Linked DNA regions of Homo sapiens: region 1 is linked to region 2. The links come from fine-mapping of genetic effects on gene expression. A gene starts in region 2. The other region holds a variant in brackets. All regions are shown on one strand. Distances are between the middles of the regions. Region 1 overlaps CD59 (CD59 molecule (CD59 blood group)). Region 2 holds the start of C11orf91 (chromosome 11 open reading frame 91).

Region 1 (5,302 bases), 21 kb before region 2:
TGAACCCTTTCATTGTGTTCTTCCTGCTTTCTTAGCAGGCCACTTCTTTCTAAGGTACTTCAAAGAACAGCTCCCCATCAGGGGCCCTGTGTGTTGTGGCAGTGTGATTTATGTCAAGGACCATTCCAAGGGAAGTGTCCTGAACCGGCAGCTCCTGCCAGCCTGACACCTTTCCAGTGCCTAACCCGAGTCAGGAGATTCCTTCCTTCCTCCTTCCGTGGGGATGCCTGACATTGTAGCTACATTGGGTTTTTGTTTGTTTGTTTGGAGAGAGGACCTTGCTGTGTCACCCAGGCTGGAGTGCAGTGGCACAGTCACAGCTCACTGTAGCCTTTACCTCCTGGGCTCAAGCGATCCTCCCACCTCAGCCTCCCAAGTAGCTGGGACTACAGTTATGTGCCACCACACCAGTCTAATTTTTTTTTAATGTTTTTATTTTTGTAGAGACAGGGTCTCACTATAATACCCAGGCTCCGATCATGCTATGCTTAACTTTTAGGAAGTGTCTGGAGCTCTCTGTTCGGGGACCTCAGACCAATACCTTCCTCTCCCTGCTCACTTGTAGCAGTTCCTTGTATACTGGAGCCCTGTCTAACCTGAGTCTATAAATCACCCTTCCTACTCAGAAACCCCTGAAAATGGGGAACCAAGCAAGCCGCTGGCATGTGCTGGAGCCCAGGTCTCCTGGGAAGGTCCACATGGGGGATGGTGTCCCGTAGCAGGCTGTAGGTTTCAGAGCCCAGCGGGTGGTGGGGAGCCCTCAATTTGTAAGGAAAGGCCAGATGACAATTGTCTTTCTTCCTGGTTCCTCACATATCATAAAACCACCTCTTTCTCATCTCCACCACCCCCATCTCCAGGCTTGACTCACTGATTGTTTTCTTTTTTGGACAATGTCAGACCCTGCCCTTTTCCTGGAACTTCTCAGTCCTCCACTGGCCTGCGTCAGCAAATTCCTAAGTAGCAGATGACCTTCAAGATGTGTGAGAAGGAAGGGACAGGAATGATTGTCAGGATTGTCAGTTCCCCAGGGAACTCTGCATTTCTGACTTAGGGAGGGTAGATGACTCACCCTTCCAAGAACCCATCTGTCTGTCCGGGCCTGTGGGGCTCTGGAGAATAGAATATGGAGTACCCTGGTTTACAGGCACTGCCACCTCCTTATTTCAGGATGGGTTCAGGGATGTAGGATTGGAGTTGGGAGATTTCTTAGTTCTGCTATGGATGCTTTGTACTTAGGCAAGTTCAAAACCTCCCTAAGCTTTGGCTTCTTTACTGGGTAAAGTAGGGTTGGAGGCATTTCAGGCTTTCCTTCTTCTCACCTGATGCTATCACTACACATCTAGGCATTCACGTAATGGAAACTTACAAAGTTGCTCAATACCTCTCTTCATGTCCCCAAAGAGAGCAAGCAAGTGTCCCCATTATACTTCTTACAGTGAGGAGCCAGAGCTTCCAGGTATGCTAAGCCATTGCTCCCTGTTCCACTGCTGAATGCATGCTGGTGCCTTCCAGAGTCACCCCTTTGGTCTGATTCACTTAGTGCTGTGGCTCCGAGAAGTGGCCCTCTCTTTCAGCCAGCAGCTTGGGGTGGGGCCAGTAGAGTGGGAACCACAGTGGCTATATGAGTCAATTTGCTCATATTGTCATTTGACTCACTGACCCTGATGGGGAAGATAGTGTTATTCCCACAGTGTGGTAGTACACACTGGGGCTTATAGGGACTGAGCCTACTCAAGGGTATATGGTGCTGTGGGTCAGAGCTGGGGCATGGCCCAGGGATTCAGTGTGCCTTGACTCCCCCTGTAAATGTTCCTCTCAGAAGCCTTCTTGGCCTTCCAGCCCTTGGTTTTTGAGACAACCAGCAGTCATTTGTTCGTTCCTGACATTCCTTCCTGTCCCTTCCTTCCAGGTTCTGTGGACAATCACAATGGGAATCCAAGGAGGGTCTGTCCTGTTCGGGCTGCTGCTCGTCCTGGCTGTCTTCTGCCATTCAGGTGAGTGCTCCAGTCTCAGGACATGGATCTAGGCTGCCTTGGCCATGAACTCCCTTCTTAAGCCTCAGTTTCAGCCCCAGCTGCTCCTCCAGGCCTGGCTTTGGTTCTTTTGCCTTCCAGTGTTACAGGTCTGGGGTTGTATGACAGCTCCTTCCTATGTTATGACCTTGTCCTCAGTGGGGCATCGTCCTGAGTTACAGCCCGTCCTGAGTTACAGCGTGGCTTTTGGCAGGGGTGGGTCAACAATCGGCGGCTGAAGTTTCACTCCTGTCACCATAAGCTGCTTGGGGACACCAATGGATACCATTCTTAGAGTGCTGTGCAAGTCCCTTTGGGGTCCACTCTGCTTAGAGCCATCTGAGCTCAGTCCTTCTGCTCTGAGGCTCCTCCTGTGTTTTAATGATGATGATGGTCATAGTGACAGCAGCAGCAGCTAACTAACCCTGAAGCATTTATGTGCCAGTCACTACTCTAAGCATTTTACGTGTATTTGCT[T/A]ATTTAATCCTCATGCCAACCTGATGGAGTTGGTGGTATTTTTATCCTTGTTTTACAAGCAACAAGATTGAGGCCTCCCCAAAATTAATAACTTGTCAAATAACACACAGAAGTGGTACACGGGAATGTGAACACACAGTCTGGCAACAGAGTCCCTGCTCTTCCCTCCTGCTCCAGGCCATCTGTCACTGGGCCACCCCCTCTCCTCAGCCACCCCTCCCCTGGTTGCTGGAGGAAATTGTGTGCTTCTGAGTCAACTTCTATAACAGTGGAAACACACATGCTTCATTGTAAAGATCAAGTGTGGTTGTCTGCCTGTGTCATGTTGGTATAATATCTTGGCCACTGCTGGTTTTTTGTTTTTTATAAATATGGTTGGTGGGGGGAGCAGAAAAGAAAGTGGCAATACAGTGAGCAATTTAAAAAAAGATTTCCACACCACTGTAGCATGTCTTAGAATATTAACAGCAACCATATATTCACTGTTTATTGTTTACTGGGGACTGTGCCAGAGCCTGTCTCATTTAAATCCGTCCAGCCATTCCGGGAGGTCGGTACTGTTACCTCCCATATTACAGCTGAGGAAATGAAGGCAAAGTAGTAACTTGGCGCCAGGACACACTTTAATATGTTCTCCCTTTCTGAGCAGAAAGAGAAGTCATGGCACCCCTTCTTCCCCACCTTCCGTGATTCTAGCCAGGGTGCACTGTAATGTGGTTCACCTGTGTTAAAACACTATATTTTTTCTATAATTATTTTTTATTTATTCATTTTTCTTGGTTCCTTCTTTTTTTCTGTCTCTGCTGCTTAAGTTGGAATATTTTCTAGAATTTTAATAGCCCAGTGACATCCTACTTCCAGCAGTCTGCATTTGTTTATGGAGCAAGCTTGGGACCATCAGCTTCTCTGTGACAAGTCTTGGGGTGCACTTCAGCCCTTTCTCAGAGAATTGAGATGTGAAGCTCACATGCCCACAGATGAGAGGCCTTCTTTGCTGCTGCCCAAAAGGGTCTCAGGACCCTGCAGGGGAACTTTCCTCTGAGCTCTGCCTCTTATGGCCCAGGGGAAACCTCGTCTACCCTGGCTTAGTGGCTAAAATATCAAACCATTGTCCACTGACCTATTGCTTGTTTTTTTTTGTTTGTTTTTTTCAGGGGGATGGAGTCTCACTCTGTCGCCCAGGCTGGAGCGCAGTGGCGCGATCTCGGCTCACTGCAACCTCCGTGTCCCAGGTTCCAGCGATTCTCCTGCCTCAGTCTTCTGAGTAGCTGGGATTACAGGAGCATGCCACTATGCCTGGCTAATTTTTGTATTTTTTTTTATTTACTTTTTAATTTTTGTATTTTTAGTAGAGGCGGGCTTTCACCATGTTGGCCAGGCTGGTCTGGAATTCCTGACCTCAAATGATCCACCTACCTCAGCCTGCCAAAGTGTTGGGATTACAGGCGTGAGCCATTGCACCTGGCCCTGTTGCTTGTTTTTGACCTCAGTTTCCACCATAATCTAGAGTTTCCTTCTCTTCCCACTCAGGTCAATTAGAAGAACATCATGGTTAACCAAGCTTGGATTTTAGAACTGACAGCCTGAGTTTGAGCTCAGCTCGGTCACTTAGTAGCTGTGTGGCTTTGAACAATTTAGTTAACATCTTAGTCTTAGTTTTCTCTTGCAAGGTGGGGATGAAGATAATTGAGCCTAGTTCTCTTAACAATCCTATGAAGAGCTTAGCACATAGATGCACATATATTTGAACACTGAATGAACATGTTTGCCATGAATATTTTTGCCCACAGACGTTCCAACCATGGGTTTTAGCCTTTCCTTCTAAAGCTTTCTTAAGAGGCCAAATGAGCCCGGGATCTAGCCACCACAAAAATCCATGTCTACAGGTAACCTTTTAAAATGGCCCTCAAACATGGCCAGTCTCAAGAACAACACCCTTCATCTTAGACTCTTTTCATTTCATGCGTGTGAATACATGTCTGGCACAAGGAAGGGACCAAAGAAAAATTGCATCTTTGCGCCTTCTCCTTGTGGCTTCCCTCTCACACGGGCATGACAGCCACAGGCTGACAGTGGGGGAGAACAAACAAAGCCTGGTGGATGGGGCCCTGCCCACAGGCCCCAGGGCTGCCGCCAGCTCTGCTGCTTTGTAGCCAGGTGTCCTTGTGTGAGTCACATCACCTCTCCAGACATCTGTCTTGTCATCTGCAAAAAAGTTGGGGAGGAGGTTGGTTTTTATTTTATTTTATTTTATTTATTTTTTAGACATGGTCTCGCTCTGTCTCCCAGGCTGGAGTGCAGTGGTGCAAGCTTGGCTCACTGCACCCTCCACCTCCCAAGCTCAAATGATTCTCATGCCTTAGCCTCCTGAATAGCTGGGATTACAGGCATGTACCACCATGCCCGGCTAATCTTTGTATATTTTGTAGAGGCGAGGTTTCACCATGTTGGCCAGGGTGGTCTCAAACTCCTGGCTACAAGTGATCCACCCACCTCGGCCTCCCAAAGTGCTGGGATTGTAGGTGTGAGCCGCCACACCTGGCCTAGTTTGTTGTTGTTTTTTAAAACTAATATTTCAAGGCATTAATCTGTAACCTTCACAAGTCAGAGGATCCTCTATTGGGTAGGATTTCACACCTGTGAGGGCAGACATGGCCATTTCAGATGCTCTAGAGAACTGGGTTCCTGTGTGTGCTCAGAAAGTGAGGACCCACCTTGCTTCCACTGGACTTTCCACTGAAAAATCTATTTCCATGGTGATAAACCTAGCCTTCAGCCTTAGAACTAGAAGTCAGCTGTTGGGCTCTAAA
Region 2 (5,372 bases):
ATCTGTAATTTTTTCTCCTCAACTAGATATATACATAAAAAATGATTGTATTGCTTCATTTAAAAAATATAACGCAAAATCTCTTTTCCTTCTAAGGGCCTTTAATATGTAATAACAAGAGCTAATGTTGAACACAAGCCATTGCCAGGTACTTAAACTGTCTCACTTAGTCTTGCCAACCTAAGCAAGTAGATGCCATTACTATTCCCATTATATTGATGAAAAAATGAGGTTGAGAAAGGTTCAGCCGCACAGCCAAATACATAGTGGATCCAGGGTTTGGTCCCAAGTCTTGAGTCCAAAACCCTGGTTCTTACCATTACTGTGGTTCTGTAGGGGTGAAAAAATTTTTCTTCTAATCTCTTAGGTTCAGAGCCTGGGGCCTGAGAATTAAACTGACAAAGACAGATTAACAGAAGACAAAGTTTATTACGCAGGTACATGGGGTTCTTACAGAAACAAAGTGAAAACCCAAAGAAGTGGCTTGAGAGCTTATATACAATTTTAACAATGGGCGATTGTAGAAAAGTGATAAGACAAAGGAAAAGAGGTTTGAGCTTCTTGGGCAGTAAATTATGGGAAGTTAAATATGTGGGGGAAACTAATGGAAGATAAGGGTATTTTTTATTTTATTTTATTTTATTTATTTTGAGACAGGGTCCTGCCTTGTCACCCAGGCTGGAGTGCAGTGCTATGATTGTGGCTCACTGCAGCCTCAACCTCAGCCTCCTTGGTTCAAGAAATCCTCCCACTTCAGCTCCTGAGTGGCTCCAGGCAAATGCCACCACACCTGGTTAATTTTTTAAATTATTTTATAGAGACAGAATCTCGCTATGTTGCCCCTGGCTGTTCTCAAACTCTTGGCCTCAAGAGATCCCACCTCAGACTCCCAGAGTGCTGGGATTACAGGCTGGGTGCTGAGCTATCGCACATGGCCTGTATTAGCCATAGACTGAGGGGAAATACATTTTCTTGAGAGCCTCAGCCTAGTGATCACTTGTATGAATAAACAATGATGGGTGGCTGCCAAAGTCAGAGAGCAAATACTGCGTGTGACAACTAAGTGTGGGAAGCTCAGTGTGGGAAGAAAAAGCTTCCCAGTTTCAGACATGCCCCTTAGTAGGGACAGCTGCCTCTTGTGTTTGGACAAAGTGTCCAAGTTCAAGTGTTTCACACACACACTGTTCCGTCTTCTGTTTGATCACAACCCTATGAGGCAGCCTGGTTTTCTTATTTCTATTTTATGGAAAACCTACTTAAAAGTCAAGCAACTTGTCCAAGGCTACCCAGCTTGAATATCTGACTCTCTCCACTTTGCTGCTACACACACACACACACACACACACACACTTTGCACTGTGTGTGCAGATACATATGCATATATATATTTAACTTGTGAAGCTGATACTGACTCTTTAACTGCCCTCCACCCATCACTAGTCATACCAGTGATCATTAGGCAGAGGCTCTCAAGAAAATGTATTAGTTATTTCCCCTCAGTCTATGGCTAATACAGGTTACTCACATAAATGAGCTGTCATGTCCTTTGGACAAAATGTCCAAATCGCTCATAAGCAATGGGTGAAGTATTTGAGGTAGGGCGGACAGGATTTCCTTTTGGTGGTTAGCTCGTTGCCTGTTAGCTCCTGGTGATATCTGTGTTTGGAAGAGAACTAAACTGCATTTCACTGAAAACACTCCTTCAGGTCTATTACAAACCAGATGAGGATCCCCTTTTCTAGAATCTTCCTCAACACTGCTAACGTTTGGCAGATACATAGGTTGGCTCTAACAGCCATTCCCAATCAATCCTCTTCTCCTTTGTCTGCCTCCCACAGTAGTGGATGAAAAATCAGACACTGATTTTCTCAGACTTCTTTGCTGTGGGCGCGGCCAGTGAGGCAATGAGGTAAGTCTGCTGGTGCAGGGGCCAGGTTTCTAGGAAATACTTTTCTCCCTCATGGGAGAAAGAGAGGAAGCCTGAAGTAAGCTTTCTTCTGCAGCCCTGGCCCGCTGCCTGTTCTGGATGAGGGTATGCTGGGATATGACAACGGAAGCCAGCGGGGTCGCAGAGCAAGAGCGAGGCGGTGGGCGGAGTCGAGGGACGGGAGGCGAGGCGAGGCGAGCCAGGGGGCGTGGCTTTCTAACTGCGGGGTGCGGCCAGCCGAGGTGGGCGGGGCCGCGTTCCGGGACGTGGTCGTCCGGGCTTTGGAACCCCGCCTGTTAGGGGCCGGGCTGAGGCGAAAGGGTGGGGCCGCGCTCCATCGGGGCGGGGCTTGTGGAACCTCGAAACCCCGGCGACTCGGGGCCTGAGCGCGCGTCTCCCGGCGCGGGGTTCCTCCCACGCAGACCCTCATTCAAACGATGCCAAAGGGGCGGCGCGGCAGCCACAGCCCCACCATGAGCCAGCGGTCGGCTCCGCCCCTCTATTTCCCGTCCCTGTACGACCGCGGCATCTCCTCGTCCCCGCTCAGCGACTTCAACATCTGGAAGAAGCTCTTCGTGCCGCTGAAGGCGGGCGGGGCGCCAGTGGGCGGGGCGGCGGGGGCCCGGTCCCTGTCCCAGGCGCTCCCCGCCCCGGCGCCCCCGCCCCCGCCACCACCCGGCCTGGGTCCCTCCAGCGAGCGCCCCTGGCCCTCGCCCTGGCCCTCCGGCCTGGCCTCCATCCCCTACGAGCCTCTGCGCTTCTTCTACTCACCGCCGCCGGGGCCTGAGGTGGTTGCCTCGCCCCTGGTCCCCTGCCCCTCGACCCCCAGGCTCGCCTCTGCCTCCCACCCGGAGGAGCTCTGCGAGCTGGAGATCCGGATTAAGGAGCTGGAGTTGCTCACCATCACTGGGGACGGCTTCGACTCCCAGAGCTGTGCGTGACCTCGCCAGGGCCACCGAGCCCAGCCTTAGCCTGCCCTAGCTCCCTCCTTGGCTCCGTGCCCCGACCCGAAATGTAGCCTGGTTTGACTCCAGCCCCCAGTAGTCCCAGATCCAAAATCTATCCCCTAGCACCCAGACTCCCTTATCCTGGACTTAACCGACTCCTCCCCCCACCACAGATCTGAACTTCATGAGCCTCTTAGTCCCAAACTCCATCCTCCCTCCGTCCTAAACCCTTTGGGTCATCTGGACTCTGAGCCTCCACACCTGGAACTCCATCCGCCACCACCCCGTCCTGAACTTTAATCCTCCTGCACAGTCATCCTCCTACCCTGTACTCTGGAGCTCCACCCACCACAGACAGTCCCTAAGCTTTAATGTTCGGTCCTAAACCGGGGCTCTCCATGGGGGGAAGGTGAAGTAAGGTGACTGTCAGTTGTCTGTAGGGGGAGGTGGGAGTTGTGCAAGAACCACAAGGCCCAAGGCCGTTTCCAGGGCAGCTTTGGGACACTCCACTTCTCAATGCTGGGGGGCAGCCCCCCTGGGACTCTGTGGCCTTGGCGCCGGTAGTTCTCTCACCAGGATCCTGGGCTGATATCTGGTCTTACGTCTGAAGTCTTAGGGCTCTGGACCACGTGTGCTGATGCGGGCAGGATCCCTCAGCCTACGAGCTGAATGACTCCTCCCTGTTGGAGGGTAAAGTTGTTAAATGCCTTGTACTCCAAGAAGGACCTATTGCAAAGTAGAACTTTCAGTAGCGGTAGGTTGTCCTGCAGACTTTGTCTTTCCCATCACTTGTTTTGGCTAAGGCTTGTCCTTGACCACTGGAGAAGGGCAGATAGTTCTAAAAAGATCATTCCAACTATCGTATATAACGGCTTAAGTTGGCTTCCCCTGCCACACAGAGAAGGGAAGTATGAAATAACCTAAATGCTTAGGTCCGTGTGGCCATGGAAATGGTCTTCAGTTCATCAGACACACTGTAATGCACCCTTTCTCATAGCCATGGAAGGAAGACAGTCCCTAGAAAAACTGGGCTTTGCTAAGTCCTGGATTTCTTAACTATGAATACATACATAATACTATGTATTCATAGTTAAGAAATCTTAACCGAATACATAGTTAAGAAATCCAGGGGCCGGGTGTGGTGGCTGGCACTTGTAATCTCAGCACTTTGGGGGGGCCAATGCGGGTGGATCATTTGAGGTCAGGAGCCTGACCAACAAGAGGATCATTGAGGACCAGCCTGACCAACATGGTAAAACCCTGTCTCTACTAAAATACAAAAATGAGCCGGGCTTGGTGGCACACATTTGTAATCTCATCTACTCGGGAGGATGAGGCAGGAGAATCGCTTGAACCCAGGAGGCCGAGGTTGCAGTAAGCCAAGATTGTGCCACTGCACTCCAACCTGGGTGAAAGAGTGAGACTCCCTCTCAAAAAAAAAAAAAAAAAAAAAAAATTAGAAGAAGAAGAAATCCAGGACTTAGCAACTCTGACTGTAAAAACACATGTAACTGGATGTGTTGCATGTACAGTCAGAACCAGTTACATGTTTTTACAGTCAGAGTTTTCAGTTTTTTGTTTTTTTCTCTCCCATCTTGGATCACAAATGGAGTTTTAGGGTCGAGGAAGCACAGTTGCTTCCCAAGAGTTTGCTTTGGAAGTGTTAGGAAAAGCCCTTATCTCTATTACGGCTAAGTTTGTTTTGCTCTCCTGCAGACACATTCCTGAAGGCGCTAAAAGACGAAAAGTTACAAGGACTGAAGACCAAGCAACCTGGAAAGAAGTCGGCCTCTCTCTCCTGAGGAGCTGCCTACCAGAGCTTGGGCAGCCACCTCCTTAGGTGTTAGTGCTTAGATAATGTGTCCCATTTGTTGTCATTTCAAAGATGGTTATTTTCTGTTCTGTATTTACCGCTGTTCTTGTTGCTACCAGCATGTACTTCACATACAGTGCCCACTTTGTGTGGTAAATCTCATGGTCTCTCTCCTCTCTATGTGCTGCTGAGGGAGCTCTCTCATGGTGTCTAGAAGCTGCTGTCCAGCCAGCATTCAAGGTCTCCCGAGACCAGGGAGGGAACCCCCAACACTACCACAGTCATGCAAACCAGAACAACAGATTATCAGGAAGGAATCGGGAGAAACCAAGGGCAATGTATATATTGGTTCTACTGCTGTGTCTCTGCTCAGAAAGGTTCTTTGAGGACTGGAATAGTGGAGGTTTGGTGTGTGGTTTGTTTTTTTTCCCAAACATATTTACTCCTTGGAAGTGGTTGGTGTTTTCATTTTTTTTAAAATGTTTTTTGGACCACAAACTCTCTGATAATCTTATCAAAGCCCTGGACCTTCCTAGAAATTCATATATTCAAGAAATATTTATTGAGTGCTTATTTTGTGCCTAGGCACTTGGGATTGGGGGTGGGGGAGAGACAGACAATAAATATTATAAATAAGTAAATCATAATATGGTATCATAGAAGATGACATGCTAAGGGGGAAAAA

The links. PIP is the estimated chance that this variant, and not a neighbour inherited with it, causes the effect. A credible set is the group of variants that fine-mapping cannot tell apart.
Region 1: its variant is the best candidate, but not a certain one, in a credible set for the expression of C11orf91 in breast (GTEx, PIP 0.76).

What each region holds. Positions count from the first base shown.
Region 1 is chr11:33,719,074-33,724,375 of GRCh38, reverse strand. CD59 (CD59 molecule (CD59 blood group)) reads left to right here. Exons shown (of 4, transcript NM_000611.6): 2 at 1,913-1,997. The coding sequence starts at 1,931. Among named protein-coding and RNA genes, the nearest start is that of CD59, 15 kb to the left of the region's middle. RefSeq lists an enhancer at 291-380. The variant T/A (reference allele first, on the strand shown) is at 2,493.
Region 2 is chr11:33,697,733-33,703,104 of GRCh38, reverse strand. C11orf91 (chromosome 11 open reading frame 91) reads left to right here and starts at 2,279. Exons shown (of 2, transcript NM_001166692.2): 1 at 2,279-2,860; 2 at 4,591-4,844. The coding sequence starts at 2,365. The coding sequence ends at 4,676. CD59 (CD59 molecule (CD59 blood group)) reads left to right here. Exons shown (of 4, transcript NM_000611.6): 4 at 1-95. RefSeq lists silencers at 2,104-2,343, 2,524-2,613.